Linked DNA regions of Homo sapiens: region 1 is linked to region 2. The links come from fine-mapping of genetic effects on gene expression. Tissue or cell type: whole blood. Region 2 holds a variant in brackets; the other region holds the start of a gene. All regions are shown on one strand. Distances are between the middles of the regions.

Region 1 (8,105 bases), 52 kb after region 2:
TGAAAACTGAAATGAAAATCTTGTCCTCCAAGTTGTAAATTACATTATTTCTGAAAAGCCTTCAGGTATCTGAGGTATCTTATCAGGATCTGCTAAATCTAAATAGATATATGACTATTCTAACTATTTCTACTGTTCTAGCCTCATAACTATCGTCTCCTTTTCCTTAACTATCACATATAAACCCCCAGTTACTGTTTCTCCCTCAGTGGAAACAAAAGCTAGTAGCTATTTAGTAAACCAGCTTTATTAGTTATTTATTTGCCTCCTCCTAAGAAGCAAGACTAACACTTTGTTCTTTCTACTTTGCTTATTATTTAACATAAGAACACAACTTTTGCCCCAATTCCTTGAGATAGAATTTTTTATTCTGTAAGCCAGAGAGCTCTCATCCTTCTAATATCTCATTAAAACTACACCCAAAGGGAAAAAAGTTAGGGTCAAAACTGTCTCAAAGGTAGATAACTTTTTTTCTTTCACACTTATTAACTAACTCAGGAAAGTAAAAGGAAAACCTAAATCTCAAAACTTCTATAAAGAAATGGAAGCTCTTTTAAAAAGAGCTGTTAACGTGAAGTTTTAAAAACAAACACACAAACAAACTACTATATTTCAGGTGCAACCAAAACATGGCATTTATTTCATCAAATGTTAAATCCACAGGAAGAAATTTGGTAATTAAGATCATGGAATAATAATCCAATTTGCTATAGAGAAAAACTTGCTGCAAATCCCCTGGAGATCTTTAAAAACAGTACAGAATTTTCTATCAAGACTGATTTTAATAAACTCCTACAAAGAGATAAAGGACTGAATTAAATAAACTCCCAAAGGTTCTTTCCAATGCTAATGTAAAAGTTTCCCTCGGGCAAATTGCCACACCTTACCTCAAATAAAGGTTTGTGCTCCTCCCACTCATCTGAATAGCAGAGAGGAAAAATTACTGCTCTATTGTTCAACTGTTACTATTGTGAAAACTGTGTGTCTACTGTCATCACTAAACAGCAATGTGTGATTGTTTCATAACTCCTTAACACAGCATCTAGCTCATCAAATTCTAAACCCAAATCCAAGAGTTGTTCTTTTACTATACACATTCATTCATCTCTTCAAGCACAGAAACATACTCTTGAGAGTGTAAAGTGATCCTAGACGTTTCTGACTTCTCTCCTGTTCATTAAAAGACATGGTGGGAGATGTGAGGAAAAGAATTTACATCTCAACAATGTTATACTCTAAATTCATATTTTAGTAAAAGCATGACACACAGCTGTATGCGTATTTTTGATGGCACAGTTGGCAACATTTCCCCCCCAGAAAGAGGGGAAAGATAGGTAGAGGTTGGAGCACAAGCACATCGCTTTAATTAAAAATGAAAACAACTTTTAAAAAATGTTAAGATATTGTATTGCTCTCATGTAGTTACCAAGATCTCTCTTTTGTATAAGAAAGAAAAATATTCACAGACAATATTCCTCCATCTGAGAGTGTAGAAAGCTCCAGATCTGAAGTCTGTATTAAAAATACTGGTGAGAAGTAGTTTTCTAGAAGGGATACTGCAGCCCTCACAGCATTCCAACAGACCGTTCTTCCAAATGCCACCAATGTGCCTTGAGTGAAACTTTTACAAAACATGTCCCCAAAAGTCAACCAAATGTTATTCATACAGATTTTAAAATGTCATGTTAGTACCTTGATATTTCTTCACCTTATTAGTTGGCAAGCTCTGAAGAAATATCATTCTATAAATGCTAAATTGTTAGAGATTATGGGAGAAAGGTCCTTGATTTCCTACTAAATCTGAACATAACTCATAGGGATTGAAAGAAGCATTTGAACACAAAGCAACGCTGAAGTGTGAACACCTTTCTCTTGACTTCCTTTTTCATTTTAAAAAATCATACCGGCCAGGTGCAGTGGCTCACACCCGTAATCCCAGCACTCTGGGAGGCCGAGGCAGGCGGATCACGAGGTCAGGAAATCAAGACCATCCTGGCTAACACAGTGAAACCCCGTATCTACTAAAAATACAAAAAATTAGCCGGGCGTGGTGGCGGGTGCCTGTAGGCCCAGCTACTTGGGAGGCTGAGGCAGGAGAATGGCGTGAACCTGGGAGGTAGAGCTTGCAGTGAGCCGAGATCGCGCCACTGCACTCCAGCCTGGGCGACAGAGCGAGACTCCATCTCAAAAAAAACCAAAAAAACAAAAAAAATCATACCTCGGCCTGGTGCGCCTGTAATCCCAGCACTTTTGGAGGCCAAGGCAGGCCAATCACCTGAGGTCAGGAGTTCGAGACCAACCTGGCCAACATGGTGAAACCCCATCTCTAATAAAAATACAAAATTTAGCCGGGCGTGATGACGGGCGCCTGTAATCCCAGCTACTCGGGAGGCTGGGGCAGGAGAATCGCTTGAACCCAGGGGGTGGAGGCTGCAGTGAGCCGAGATCGCGCCATTGCACTCCAGCCTGGGTGACAAGAGCAAAACTGTCTGAAAAAAAAAAACAAAAACAAAAACAAAAAAAAAATCATACCTCAATGAAATTCACCTGCAAATGTATTTTCTAACTCCTACCCGTTAAATTTCCCTATTACATTCTATACCACAACAATTTTGTCTTATAAGTCGTTTACATTGCTAGGAAAACGACAAACTATTCCACTGCTTATAATGAGCTGACTGTTATCACTTCCTCCCTCACACAATTATTTCTTTAAAAGTGAAAACAAATCTTTTGATCTGTGTATTACTTCGCTTTGACACCTTACAACTTCAGGGGAGGTCAAGTCTGCTTTACTTATTTTTCCCCTCAACTCAGTCTCAATATCTCAACATGACCTGGAAAAATGCTTTATTTTCTGCTTCGCAGCAAACAGTAACAGACCTATCCATCATAACTACTCATCTGGGGAGTAGTTATGTTAAAGCCAAATTAAGATCACCATCCTATCAAACTGCAACAGTCACACTCCCGCTAAAGGGAAACAGAGTACTTTCTAAGCGTTCCTTAATATCTGTACAAGACTTAAACGTATTAAAGTCAACTGCAAAATTATCGCAACACTCTCTTCCAGGAACACCGATCTTGCATCTTTTTAACCAGCTCATCTTTAAAAACACATTTCAACAGAATATCTGTCAGTCCAGACCACTGTAAGGTTGATAATAAGCATTGTCTTGAATTTAGAACTTTTCAAAATATTTTAGAACTGCCTGAACTTGGTTGATGATTCAGCATGGTTAATTAGTATAGAGTCATCGCAAGTCACCACCAGGCTAAACAATCCCCTTGTGTGATAGCACTCGTGTTCAGGAAAGGGTCGAAGGGGCCACCTAATCCAACCTGGAGCCTGGGGTAGAGTCTCACCACCGGCAGAGTTAAGAGAATGATGCTTTCGAGGGACCAGCTTGGATTCCCTGCCAGATCTATGGACCAATGTCCTGGTTGGGGACTGAACGTGGTAGTCCAGAATGTGGTTGGGAGAGGCTGGGTGTGTTTCCATCTGACACCACCGCCTAATTTTCTTTGCTTCTTAAGGACCCCATGGGTGGTTTTCTTTGGACGACTGCAGGACTTTAAAAGGAAGCAATAACCTCAGGGGTTTGAGAAGGGACCCTCCGGAGCCCTTGGGCGGCTCCCACTGGAGTCCGAAGGGCCCCTCATCGCTTCCCCTGGGGACAGCACACACTTCTGGCAGAATGGGGCAGAGAAAAGTACCCGGAGCTCTGAGCAGAACCCAGAGCTCCGGGAGTAAGACCTCCAGGCGCGGAGAGGTGGGGAGCCCCCGAGCCGTCCTTGAGCCTCCAGGCTCGTGGAGGTCGGGCCAGCGGCCGGACACTGCCGCCCACACCTGCGAACGGCGCCCGCCCCGCGGATTGCCCAGCGGATGGCCCGGAGACCTCGCCCCGCCCGGCCGCCCCTCCGCCAGTCCACACCGCCACCCCGGCCCCGCCGCGCGGGCCCCTCGTACCTGGCCGGCGGCGGCTGCGGCTGCGGCTGCAGCGCTGCTCCTCACGTACCCGTTCCGTACTTCCCCGTTCGCCACGCAGCCATTCGCCCGCACCGTGCGGCGGCAGCAGCAGCCTCCGGGCTCCGGCCGCATCTTCCTGGCAGCACCAGGCGCAAGGCAGGCTCTGTAGGCGGTGGCAGCGGCGGCGGCTGCTCCAAGTCCCGCTCCGCACCCCACCCACCTCCCCGAAACCGGAAATGGCTGCAGCGCCGCCGCCAATTCCCGGGCGGGCCTTCACAGAGGGCGGGGCCCTCTCCGCAGAGGACCGGTCTCGGCCAAGGCCACGCAGCGAAGGGAAAAAGCGGCGGGGACCTGCCGAGAGGGATGTGGTCCTGAGGACCGCTGACCAATCTGGAAGAGAAGGAGGCGGACCCCATGCTGCTGCCTGGCCAATCACGGACGAGAGCAAAGCGCCTCGCCGGTGGAGAGGGGGCTTCTCTAGAGGGACTCCAGGGCCTGGCACCTGATTGGAGGCCGCATCCAGGTCCGGGGTAGGGCTTGCCTGTTTAATGGTCCAGACCGAGGAGGAGGCGGAGCCCAGGGAAAAGTAGCCAATTAGAGTGTGAGGAAATAAAAGGGGCTGAGCCGAAGTCTCTAGAGCGGGTTCCCAGGTTCTCCAGGACAGGTGGCGCCCTCTTTGCCCTTGCCTCGTGGGAAGTTTTGGAGTTTATGTCCTAGCCCAAGACAGGCAGCTCGCTTATTTAATTAGCTGATTCCTCTGTGAGTGTTTATAGAATAGATTTTTTGACAATCTCTCATCATTCTTCAATATGCGCCACACATTCACTATTTCTGAATTATTATAAGTAATAATTCAGATGCCTTTTCACGTGCCCTTCACATTTGCCCTTGGCAGGGTTTTCTATACAGTCTCCTTTAAATTAAGTCTTTCCTTCAAAGTTAGAAAACCTGGTCTAATTCCAACTCTGCCAATAACTGGAAGCTAAAACTTGAGCACTGTGTTTAACCACTTTAGAAGCCAAATTCTTTAAAATGGAGTTAATACTTCCTGCTTCATAGACTTACAGCAAGAATTATATCATTAACCCATTATGCACCTCTTATAATACTAGGCTTATAGTAGGAGTATAATAAATATTATTTTCTCACCCTTTTAGTTCCATCTTCCCATGGGGTTAGAAAGCAAGGAAATTGATCTACATTACAATTAGAGACTTTCTGTTATCCATAAAGAATTTAGTATCATAATTGAGAGTATGGACTCTGGAGTCGGTCTGGGTTTTAAATCCTAGCTGCGCCACTTACTAGCTGAGTGACCTCTATGTGTCTTCATCTGTTCAGTGGGGACAATAATAGTTGTCGTGAAGATTGAATAAGTTTATGTATGTAATGTATTTTGTACAGGACCTAGCAATTAGTAAGCATTCATTAAGTGTTGGTTACTAGTAATTGCTAAATGCACCTATGAGAATCCGTGCATTCTTTCCCCACCCTGCAGGAGCTTTAGAAAGGAGGTCCACAAGGTATTGGTTTTGCATGACTTAGGAGCTGAATAATCTAACAGAAGGTGGGATCATTCATCCCACACATCCTATTTGAGTTGACAAACACTATTGATCCCAAAGTGAATATACATCTGTATGTATAAGGCTAAAAAGGAAACATGTGGCTGTGCTTCATGGAGCTTACATTTCAGTGAGAGACAAGATATACACATAGAAAGAAAACAATAGTTAAAGACCAACCTAAGGCTGGAGAGATTAGGCAACAGGAGTTCTGATGAGGGAAGCTGAATGGCAGTGATGAGTCTAACCAGGTAGAAAGTTTTCAGGGCAGGAATCTGGATGGAAGCAGGGCTAAGGGATTTAACTGAAGCTTAGGGAGTGAGCTGAATGACTCTGGAGAAGGCTTGCGAGGAAGATGTGCAATGAGACAGATCTTGGAAGATGAGCGGGACTTGGAGAGCTGGAACTGAGAAGGATGGGGAGGGTGTTCTGAGGAAACCTTCAGAAACTCGGGTGTCGAGTCTAGAAAGATCAAAGCCTCACCTGCAGGCTAAGAGGAGTAAAGGAGTCTGGCTAGATTTGAGGAGTCCTGTTAGCCGATCCCTCCTCAGGGGGCTGGCCCCTTGTCTTGTTCCGCCACTTACTCACTATGTATAGTCTTGGACAAGTAATGCAAACTCAGCCCTGGTTTCCTCACTCATCTTACAAAGTGTGTACCTGTACTACTTACCTTACAGGCTTCTGTGAGCATCAGTGATATACAGATGATCTGATTACTTCACATGCCATTGCTAAATCACAAAAATGATGCTGCAGTAGGCAGTAGGAAACACCCCAGACTCCATGTAAACAGGAAAACAACTCCTTCCAGAAACATAAGCCGCTTAATCATCATTTTACAGTGTTCATATGCAAAGTTCTGTGCTAGGCACCAGGAAGACAACCCTTCTCTTCCTTCAAGATTGCTCAAACCACTTCAACTGTGAAGCCTGTTTTGAACCCCAACCTCCCCACAAAATTAGTTGCTTTCTCCTCTGTGAGCTTTATACACACCTGTGTAAGCATGTATCACACTGCTTTGAGATTCTTTGAGAGGGAGGTTACACAATGCTTAGAAGCAAGAGCTCTGCAGTCAGATATACCATAATTGAAGACCGGTTTCAGCACCTAGAATCCTTATGATTTAGGCAAAGCTGCCTAACCTCTCTATGACTCAGGTACTTCTTCTGTAAAATGGGATATACCTCATAGAGTTGGAGAATTAACAAAAGCATTTAGTGCCAAGACCTGTTACATAATATTAAATGAGTGTTGGTAATTATTCATTGGATAAATGAAGTACTTATTAAGTGAATGAATGATTGATTGAATACATTTATACTTACAATTAGGCAACAAGCTTGGTGAGTTGAGGGGATTGTCTAATTTATCTTTGGGTTCCCAGTACCTACCACGTGTCTGTCACATAGCAAATGCTCAATAAATGTTTGATGAATGCATAAATGGATAAATGAATTAAAATTTGGCCTTGGCTGGACATGGTGGCTCACACTTGTAATCTCAGCACTTTGGGAGGCCGAGGTAGATGGATCACGTGAGGCCAGGAGTTCGAGACCAGCCTGACCAACATGGTGAAACCCCGTCTCTCCAGAAAATACAAAAATTAGCCGGGCGTAGTGGCACATGCCTGTAATCTCAGCTACTTGGAGGCTGAGGCACAAGACTTGCTTGAACTTGGGAGGCAGAGGTTACAGTGAGCCGAGATTGTGCCACTGCACTTTAGCCTGGGTGACAGAGAGAGACTCTGTCTCAAAAAAAAAAAAAAAAAAAAATTTTGGCCTTGTCTCCAAGGAACCTTCTATCACATGGAGACTGTGTTAATTGAGGTTCTTTGGTTGCAGATAACATAAGCCAATTTTAAAAAACTTATTCAAGAAAGGTAAATTTATTGGAACTCTCCTGAAGACAGGGAAGTGTTGGCACTCAGGAAAATCCTAAACCTCAGCAGCAGAAAATTATAGACCTTCCTTCCTCCTAACCAAACCACTTCTGGTGCTTAGCTCTCAACAACCTACAACTTTCATATTCATGAGGTCAAACTTCTACACTCTCAGGAAAAAGAAATCTGATTGGCCTAGCTTATGGTGAGGATGGGTAAATCTGACCAATCGCAATGGCCAGAGCACAAGGTCAAACTGCTGGAGGGGAGGAATCAGTTATAGACAAGGAAGAATCATAGCAGAGAAGGGAGGAACAACCCTAACAGTGTTCACTACAAGGAGATAGAACCCGGGAGTGAAAAGGACAAATAGCAATAGCTTAGAATGGATGTTAAAGAAGGAGGCTGGCGGGTGCAGTGGCTCACACCTATAATCCCAGCACTTTGGGAGGCCGAGGGGGTCGGATCACCTGAGGTCAGGAGCTCGAGACCAGACTGGCGAACATGGTGAAACCCCCATCTCTACTAAAAATACAAAAATATTATCCAGCGTGGTGGCGGGCGGGAGGCTGAGGCAGGAGAATCGCTTGAACCCGCGAGGTGGAGGTTGCAGTGAGCCGAGATCGCGCCATTGCACTCCAGCCTGGGCAATAAGAGCAAAACTCCGTCTCAAAAACAAAAACAAACAAAC
Region 2 (8,105 bases):
ATTCATACAAGATGCAAGCATGTGTATGTTCATTGTAGCACTATTCACAACAGCAAAGACATAGGATCAATCTAAATGTCCATCAACAGTAGACTGGATTAAAAAAATGTGGGCCAGGCGTGGTGGCTTATGCCTATAATCCCAGTACTGGGAGGCCAAGGTGGGTGGATTGCTTGAGCCCAGGAGTTCAAGACCAGCCTGGGCAACATGGTGAAACCCCATCTTTACAAAAAATACAAAAAGAAAACACAAAAAACAAAAAACAAAAAACTTGGCCGGGCGTGGTGGAACACATCTGTAGTCCCAGCTACTAGGGTGGCTGAGATGGGAGGATCGGTTGAGCTGGGGAGGTAGAGGTTGCAGTGAGCTGAGTTCATGCCAATGCATGCCAGCCTGGGAGACAGAGCAAGACTCTGTCTCAAAAATAAAAATAAAAATATATATATATATATGTACATATACACCATGGAATACTATGTAGCCATAAGAAAGAATGAGATCATGTCCTTTGCAGCAACATGGATGCAGCTAGAAGCCATTACCCTAAGCAAACTAATACAGGAACAGAAAACCAAATACCACATATTCTCACTTGTAAGTGGGAGCTAAACACTGAGTACATACAGACACGACTAAGGGAACAACAGACACTGGGGTCTACTTGAGAGTGAGGCAGGGGAGGTTGAGGAGGGTAAGGTTCGAAAAACTACCTACCTATCAGGTACTATGCTGATTACCTGGGTGGCGAAATAATCTGTACACAAACCCCCGAGACATGCAATTTACCTATATAACAAACCTGTACATGTACCCCTGAACCTAAAATAAAAGTGAAAAAAAAAAAGTTCATATAATGCTTAGAGGCAATTTGGAAAAGTATTAAAAATGTATACTCTTTTAACCATGCATTCTGAGACTGCTAGAAATTTATCCTAAGGCACTAACCAGATGATGGTACAAAACTGTAACTGTAGTGCTGTTCCCAGTAGAAAAATTTAGAAACAGCCCCGATGTCCAATTGAGGGGGCAATTAAATGAGGGCACACCCAGGCACTAACTGCCACACTGGTATTTAAGAATGAGATAGAGTTACATGTAATGACAAACAACAATCACCGTGTATTGTAAAAAGAGGCCAGGCATGATGGCTCACACCTGTAATCCCAGCACTTTGGGAGGCCAAGGCGGGAGGATCAACTGAAGTCGGGAGTTCAAGACCAGTCTGGCCAACACAGTGAAACTCCGTCCCTACTAAAAATACTAAAAATTAGTCAGGTGTGGTGGCGCGCTCCTGTAATCCCAGCTACTCGGGAGGCTGAGGCAGGAGAATCGCTTGAACTCGGGAGGCAGAGGTTGCAGTGAGCCAAGATTGAGCCACTGCACTCCAGCCTGGGTGACAGAGCGAGACTCTAGCCTCAAAAAAAAAAAAAAGAAAATAACAGGTTACATAGTGATATTTAATAAGATCTCATTTCTCACTGTAAAACATTTTAGACAAGACAAAAACAAAAACAAAAACAAAAATGATGTTATCATCTATGATCCTTCCATCCACGGGTACACACCTAACATTTTGGTATACATTCTTCCAAACTTTTGTCTGTGCCTGTACACATTTTGGGAAAAGATGCTATTAACATACAGTTTGGTCACCTTTTCTGCCTATGTGTGTGTTTTAACTATGAAAGTTACGCATTTTTATTCTAAATAATCATTTTAATAATACACAAAGATATTTCCACTGAGGGAGGAAAGGTCTGGCTCAGGGCCACCCTCCTCTGTGCTCCCACAGCATCTATTCATAGCTGTACTTCAGCACCTGTCCACTATATTGTAAGGACTGGCTTATCTATTAAGTCTCTTCGTTAACCAGTCAGAGATCTTGATTTATTCACTTAAATACTGTTAGTCTTATGGCAAGATACACTATAGTCATCGAGTAAATGTATTTGAGTAACGGATCTGTAAACAAGGAAATGGGATGGAAAACTTCATGGTCAAATAAAAGGATAGTATTATATTTGTACAAGAGGCTTCCATCAACCTCTAATTTTAAAAGACTGGACCGGAAGAACATTTTAAATGTTGCTACTTTGTCTTCATTTATACTTTCAAGTGCTAATATAACTAATGTTAACTCCCACCATGGATCGAAAGAATAGCAAAACCAAGGCCAGCAGTGAATTCTTCAGCAAACTCACTGTTGTGTTTGAAGATTCTAATGGTTGCTCCTGACAGTCTGGCTCCCAGAACCAGTGATGCATGATTCAGTTCATCACTCAGAATCAGGCAACCCTGCAACATCACAGGAACAGAAAGGTAAGAAGCTGGAGGGGAAAGGGTTAGTTACACAAATCACAAAATGCCACAAACACTAATAGCTGTATCTTATTAAGGAAATTGTGCACAACAGCACAGTGATCAATTTTAAGAAGAGGAAAAAGGTGTACACGATCATTTGTTTTTTGTAAAGACACCTTAAAAGTAGATGCAAAATTCTAGCCTTTTAATTTAATATCTTCAGTCCCATGACTGATGTAAATACTCAGATATATGGCAACAGGTCTTTATTTGTATCTAAAACATGACACATCCGTCTCTAAAACGTTTTGGTTTCTTTACGTGAGAGAATTCCATGTAGTTTTAGTATCATGTTCTGTTTATCTGTGGGAAATGGCAGCTGATGGGGTCATGTCTGTGGAAATGGTGCATTCTCTCACTACTACTCATATCCAGAGTCCAGGGAAGATCCTACTTATTAACTTTTTCCCCACATAGCATGGACTGTAGGCTTCAGTTTTGTCTTAAAAATCCCCAAACAAGCTTTGCTTTAACACACAAACATCAGTTTCTGCTAAGGCAACTAAGAAAAGGTTGAAGATCTCGGTTTGGTTTTTTTTTTCACTGCAGTTCTTACTCTTCCATCTCTCAGGGGGCCCTTCAACCTGTCAGATCTCAACTCAGAAAAAGGTTTTTCTCTGTCAAAAATAGCCTCATAATATCCAATTAGATGAAAAGGGTGCAGAAAGTATATAGCATGCTCCCACGAGAATAAAAAGAAGAGAGAAGATACAAAGACACACAGTCATCCCTCAGTCTACAGGAGGACTTGGTTCCAGAACTGCCTCACCCTCACATTTATCCAAATCCATCCATGCTCATGTCCTGCAGTTGGCCCTGTGGGACCTGCAGGCCCTCCATATACTTGGGTTTTGTGTTCCATGAATACTATATTGTGTGTATGTGTGTGTGTGAGATGGAGTCTTGCTCTTGTTGCTGGAGTGCAGTGGTGCGATCTTGGTTCACTTGCAACCTCTGCCTCCCAGATTCAAGCGATTCTCCTGCCTCAGCGTCCCAGCTAGCTGGGATTACAGGAGCCCACCACCAGGCCCAGCTAATATTTGTATTTTTAGTAGAGATGGGGTTTCACCATGTTGGCCAGGCTGGTCTTGAACCCCTGACCTCAGGTGATCCACCCGCCTCAGCGTCCCGAAGTGCCAAGATTACAGGTGTGAGACACTGTGCCTGGCTGAAAACTGTATTTCTGCTCCATATTTGGTTGAAAAAAATCCACGTGTAAGTGGACCTGCATGGTTCAAACCATGTTGTTCAAGGGTCAACTATATATATACATGCTTATTTATTACAGAATATTCTTAAAGGAATACTTAAGAAACTTGTAACAGTAGTTGTGTTTGAAATTTTTATTATGCACATAGTATTTATTAAGATAAAAAAGCTACCTGGTTAAAAATGTACAGATTAAAAATGAAGTGGCCAGGCATGGTGGCTCATGCCTGTAATCCTGGCAATTTGGGAGGCCAAGGTGGGTGGATCACTTGAGGTCAGGAGTTCGAGACCAGCCTGGCCAACATGGCAAAACCCCATCTCTACTAAAAAGAAAACACAAAAAAATTAGCTGGGCGTGGTGGCAGGCGCCTCAAATCTCTGCTACACAAAAGGCTGAGGCAGTGAGGCAGTGAGCCGAAATTGTGCTGCTGCACTCCAGCCTGGGCAACAGAGGGAGACTCTGTCTGGGGGGAAAAAAAAAAAAAAAAGGAGGAGGAGGAGGAAGAGGAGGAAGAGGAGGAAAAGGAGGAAGAGGAGGAGAAGGAGGAGAAGGAGAAGAAGGAGAATAAGGAAAAGGAGAAGACTAGAGCCGGCAGTATCAATAGACTCCTGGCTTTCAAATCTTTATGCATGCATACACACACACACACACACACACACACACACACACACACACACACACACACAGATGTGTGTGTATGCATGAGTTCGCATATATACATACATTTTCTAGCTCTAGTCACTGAGAGGTGAGAAGCAGTGATACTCCTTCAGCAATAAACACACCTAGTTCCCAGACCTTGGTTTCTAAATATCATTCTCCAAAAAAAAGAACCAGCACTTCTTGGAGAACTGGTTAATTCCAAAACTGGGATAGGGAAAATATAAGATGATCCTGGAGCATTTTATCATGCCAGAAAGTATAAGAATGCTTTAAAAAAAAAAAGTTATTATATATTCAAAGGACACAGGTACCCACCTGAAGCAGCTCCCAATGGCCAAAACTAAAACTCGAGCAACAAAAAAGAAGCAATTGTGTTGAATTATAAGCCAAATAA[TAAAAATATTCACA/T]AACCCACAACGACAGAAATAAATAAGGGAGAAGCAAGAACTCTTCCTTACACAAAAATTCTAATTAGTAAGTATAGAAAGAATGAGAAAAATAGAAAAATCACCATTAGAACACCAAGGTAAGCCGGGTGCGGTGGCTCACGCCTGTAATCCCAGCACTTTGGGAGGCTGAGGTGGCTGGATCACCTGAGGTCAGGAGTTTGAGACCAGCCTGGCCAACGTGGTGAAACCCCATCTCTACTAAGAAATACAAAAAATTAGCCGGGCATGGTGGTGGGTGCCTGTAATCCCAGCTACTCAGGAGGCTGAGGCAGGAGAATTGCTTGAACCCAGGAAGCAGAGGTTGCAATGAGCTGAGATGGCGCCACTGCACTCCAGCCAGGGCAACAAGAGCAAAACTCCATCTCAAAAAAAAAAAAAAAAAAAAAAAAAAGAACACCAAGGTAATAACTGCCACAGGCAAGATCACAGATGCATACTAAAGTTAGTGGGTGAAAGTTTAATCCAAAATGCTATATACAGTCCCAAAGTATCTCTGCCACAATATATGGTGATTACAAAGAGAAAAGCAGTAAGTTGGTAGTAGAAAATCCCCGCTGACACCTGAGACAAGCGATTAAGATTTACATCATCAGTAATATGTATCAAAACCACATAGTCTCTCGCATGATTCACTGAGAATGGTATCACTTCTGTGGTAGCTTTCTCAATAACGCACGGACTCAATCAAACCATAACAACACAACAGACAGACCCAAATTGGAGACATTCTACAAAATAAGGGACCAGTACCCTTCAGAAGTATTAAGGTCATGAAAGACAAAGAAAAACAGGAACTATCCCAGATTGGAGGAGACTGAGGAGCTACAACAGCTAAAGACAATGTGGATCCTCACCTGGATCCTGAAGCGGAAAAACTGGTGAAAACCAAATACGTCCTGTACTTTAGTTATAGTATTGTGTCACAGTTAATTTCTTAGCTGTAAGAAACAGTTCCACTGTTATGCAAGATGTTAACATAAAGGGAAGCTGAATGAATGGTATACAGGAACTCTCTGTACTCTTTTGTAACTCTTTTTGTAAGTCTAAATTAAAGTTTCAAAAAAGTGTTAAAATTGAAAAAGCGAAACTGGGGGAGAAAATAAAGAGAAGTCAGATTTCTCTTCAGCAAGTCAAATTCTTTACTTACCACTCTTGGCATTCAACTCTATCTTAAAAAGAACCCTCCCTTCCCTTCCCCTCCGCACAAAATTTTATTTTCTTCTCTTTCCAGCTAAATATTTTTCTGGCAAACCTGCAAAAGCATTATGTTCTTTTTTTCTGGCAAAAAGGAACTCTTTTTAGACAGCCTTTTTTAGACAGCCTTATTCAGCATTTCAATGTATCAATCTGTCTTTTTCCCTTAGAACTTATTCTTAAGCTTTATTAAATCTTTGGTTCAAAAATAAAAGGTATTCATACTAGCAGTTAACATCTAAGCGCTTAATGTTTCAGGTATCATGTTAAAAGATTTAAAAGCATTATTACTATTAATCCTCACAATAATTCTATGTAGCAGACACTATTATCACTCCCACTTTACATATGAGGACACTCTTGTTCAGGAGTTTAGAATCTTGCTCAAGGTCACAAGCACAGTAACAAAATAATAATAGCAATACTAATTATTGCCCAGGCTGGAGTGCATCGGCGCAATCTCGGCTCACTGCAAGCTCCGCCTCCCGGGTTCACGCCATTCTCCTGCCTCAGCCTCCCGAGTAGCTGGGACCACAGGCGCCTGCCACTACGCCTAATTTTTATATTTTTAGTAGAGACGGGGTTTCACCGTGTTAGCCAGGATGGTCTCGATCTCCTGACCTCGTGTTCCACCCGCCTCGGCCTCCCAAAGTCCTGGGATTACAGGCGTGAGCCACCGCGCCCGGCCACAAAATAATTATTAAATAAGACAAGTGTCTGCTTCCAGAACCTATGCTCTTAATCAATATACTGCCCCACCCTGCCATCAAACTGAGCAATTAACCACCTCACATGGAAATTCAGTATCAGATTCAAAGGATCATTAAAACTGGATAAGTTACTGTCTTTAACAGATTAAACAATATTTAATAATATTTCAATTATAGTTTGATTTGGAATATAAATCTTTTTTTTTTGAGACGGAGTCTCGCTCTGTCCCCCAGGCTGGAGTGCAGTGGCCCGATCTCGGCTCACTGCCAGCTCCGCCTCCCGGGTTCACGCCATTCTCCTGCCTCAGCCTCCAGAGTAGCTGGGACTACAGGCACCCGCCACCACGCCCGGCTAATTTGTTGTATTTTTAGTAGAGACAAGGTTTCATCCTGTTAGCCAGGATGGTCTCGATCTCCACCCGTCTCAGCCTCCCAAAGTGCTGGGATTACAGGCGTGAGCCACTGCGCCCGGCCCTGGAATATAAATCCTTATGGTTGTATCTTCCAGGTCTGTGTAGAAAACGTCTAATTCTAGATAATCCTCTGATAGAGCTTGTAAGCATACAGAGAGAAGAGCAAGATGAGATTTTCTAATCCTCTAGTGTTAAAAATTCTAACAAATAAGAATCTCAGGCTTGTACTTCAAAATGCAGGACAGCAACGTATTATAACGTGAAGTCAAAGAACCATACATTTATGTCTTACAAGGAATTTTGTGTATTTTATCTAAGTTGTTGAATATTTTGGCATGAAGTTGTTCTTAATACTCCCTTATTATCCTTTAATGTCCATAGGACGTGTAGTGATGTCCCCCTCTCTCATTCCTGTTACTGGTAATATGCACCTTATCTCTTCTTATCCTGACCATTCTGGCCACAGATTTATCAACTATATTCATTTTCTCAAAGAATCAGCTTTGGTTTCACTAATTTTCCTATTGTCTATTTTCTAATTCATTAATTTTTGCATTTATCATCATTATATTCTTCCTTCTGCTTAGTTTGGGTTTAATTTGTTTTTCTTTTTCTAATTTTTTAAGCTACAAGCTTTACTTTTTTTTTTTAAGATGGAGTCTGGCTGCTTTACTTTTTTTCTAATACAGGTTGAATATTCCTTATTCAAAATGCTTGGGACCAGATGTGTTTCAGAGTTCAGATTTTTATGGATTTTGGATTATTTGCATTATATTTACTGGTTTAGCACCCCTAAGCATTTTCTTTGAGCTGTCATGATGACACTCAAAATATTTACGAGTTTGAAACATTTTAGATTTCAGATTTTGGGATTAGGAATGCTCAACCTGTATAAACGTTTAATGCTATACATTTCCATCTGAGCATTGCTTTAGCTTCATCCAACAAACTATAATAGGTTACATTTCCATTTAGTTCAAAATATGTTTATTTTCCCCTGTTTTTTCTTCTTTGGCCCATGGGTTATTTAGAAATATATTGTTTAATTTTCAAATATTCAAAGGTTTTCCAGATATCTTTGTGTTATCAATTTCTAATTTAAATT

Evidence for each region. PIP is the estimated chance that this variant, and not a neighbour inherited with it, causes the effect.
Region 1: SPTLC2 starts here. The variant in region 2 is fine-mapped to the expression of SPTLC2 in whole blood (INTERVAL, PIP above 0.99).

What each region holds. Positions count from the first base shown.
Region 1 is chr14:77,612,478-77,620,582 of GRCh38, forward strand. It overlaps SPTLC2 (serine palmitoyltransferase long chain base subunit 2), which reads right to left and starts at 4,160. Exons shown (of 12, transcript NM_004863.4): 1 at 3,971-4,160. The coding sequence starts at 4,102. RefSeq lists enhancers at 3,417-3,626, 3,955-4,487 and silencers at 3,807-4,006, 4,147-4,196, 4,527-4,586.
Region 2 is chr14:77,560,195-77,568,299 of GRCh38, forward strand. SPTLC2 (serine palmitoyltransferase long chain base subunit 2) reads right to left here. Exons shown (of 12, transcript NM_004863.4): 6 at 2,202-2,295. Among named protein-coding and RNA genes, the nearest start is that of SPTLC2, 52 kb to the right of the region's middle. The variant TAAAAATATTCACA/T (reference allele first, on the strand shown) is at 4,629.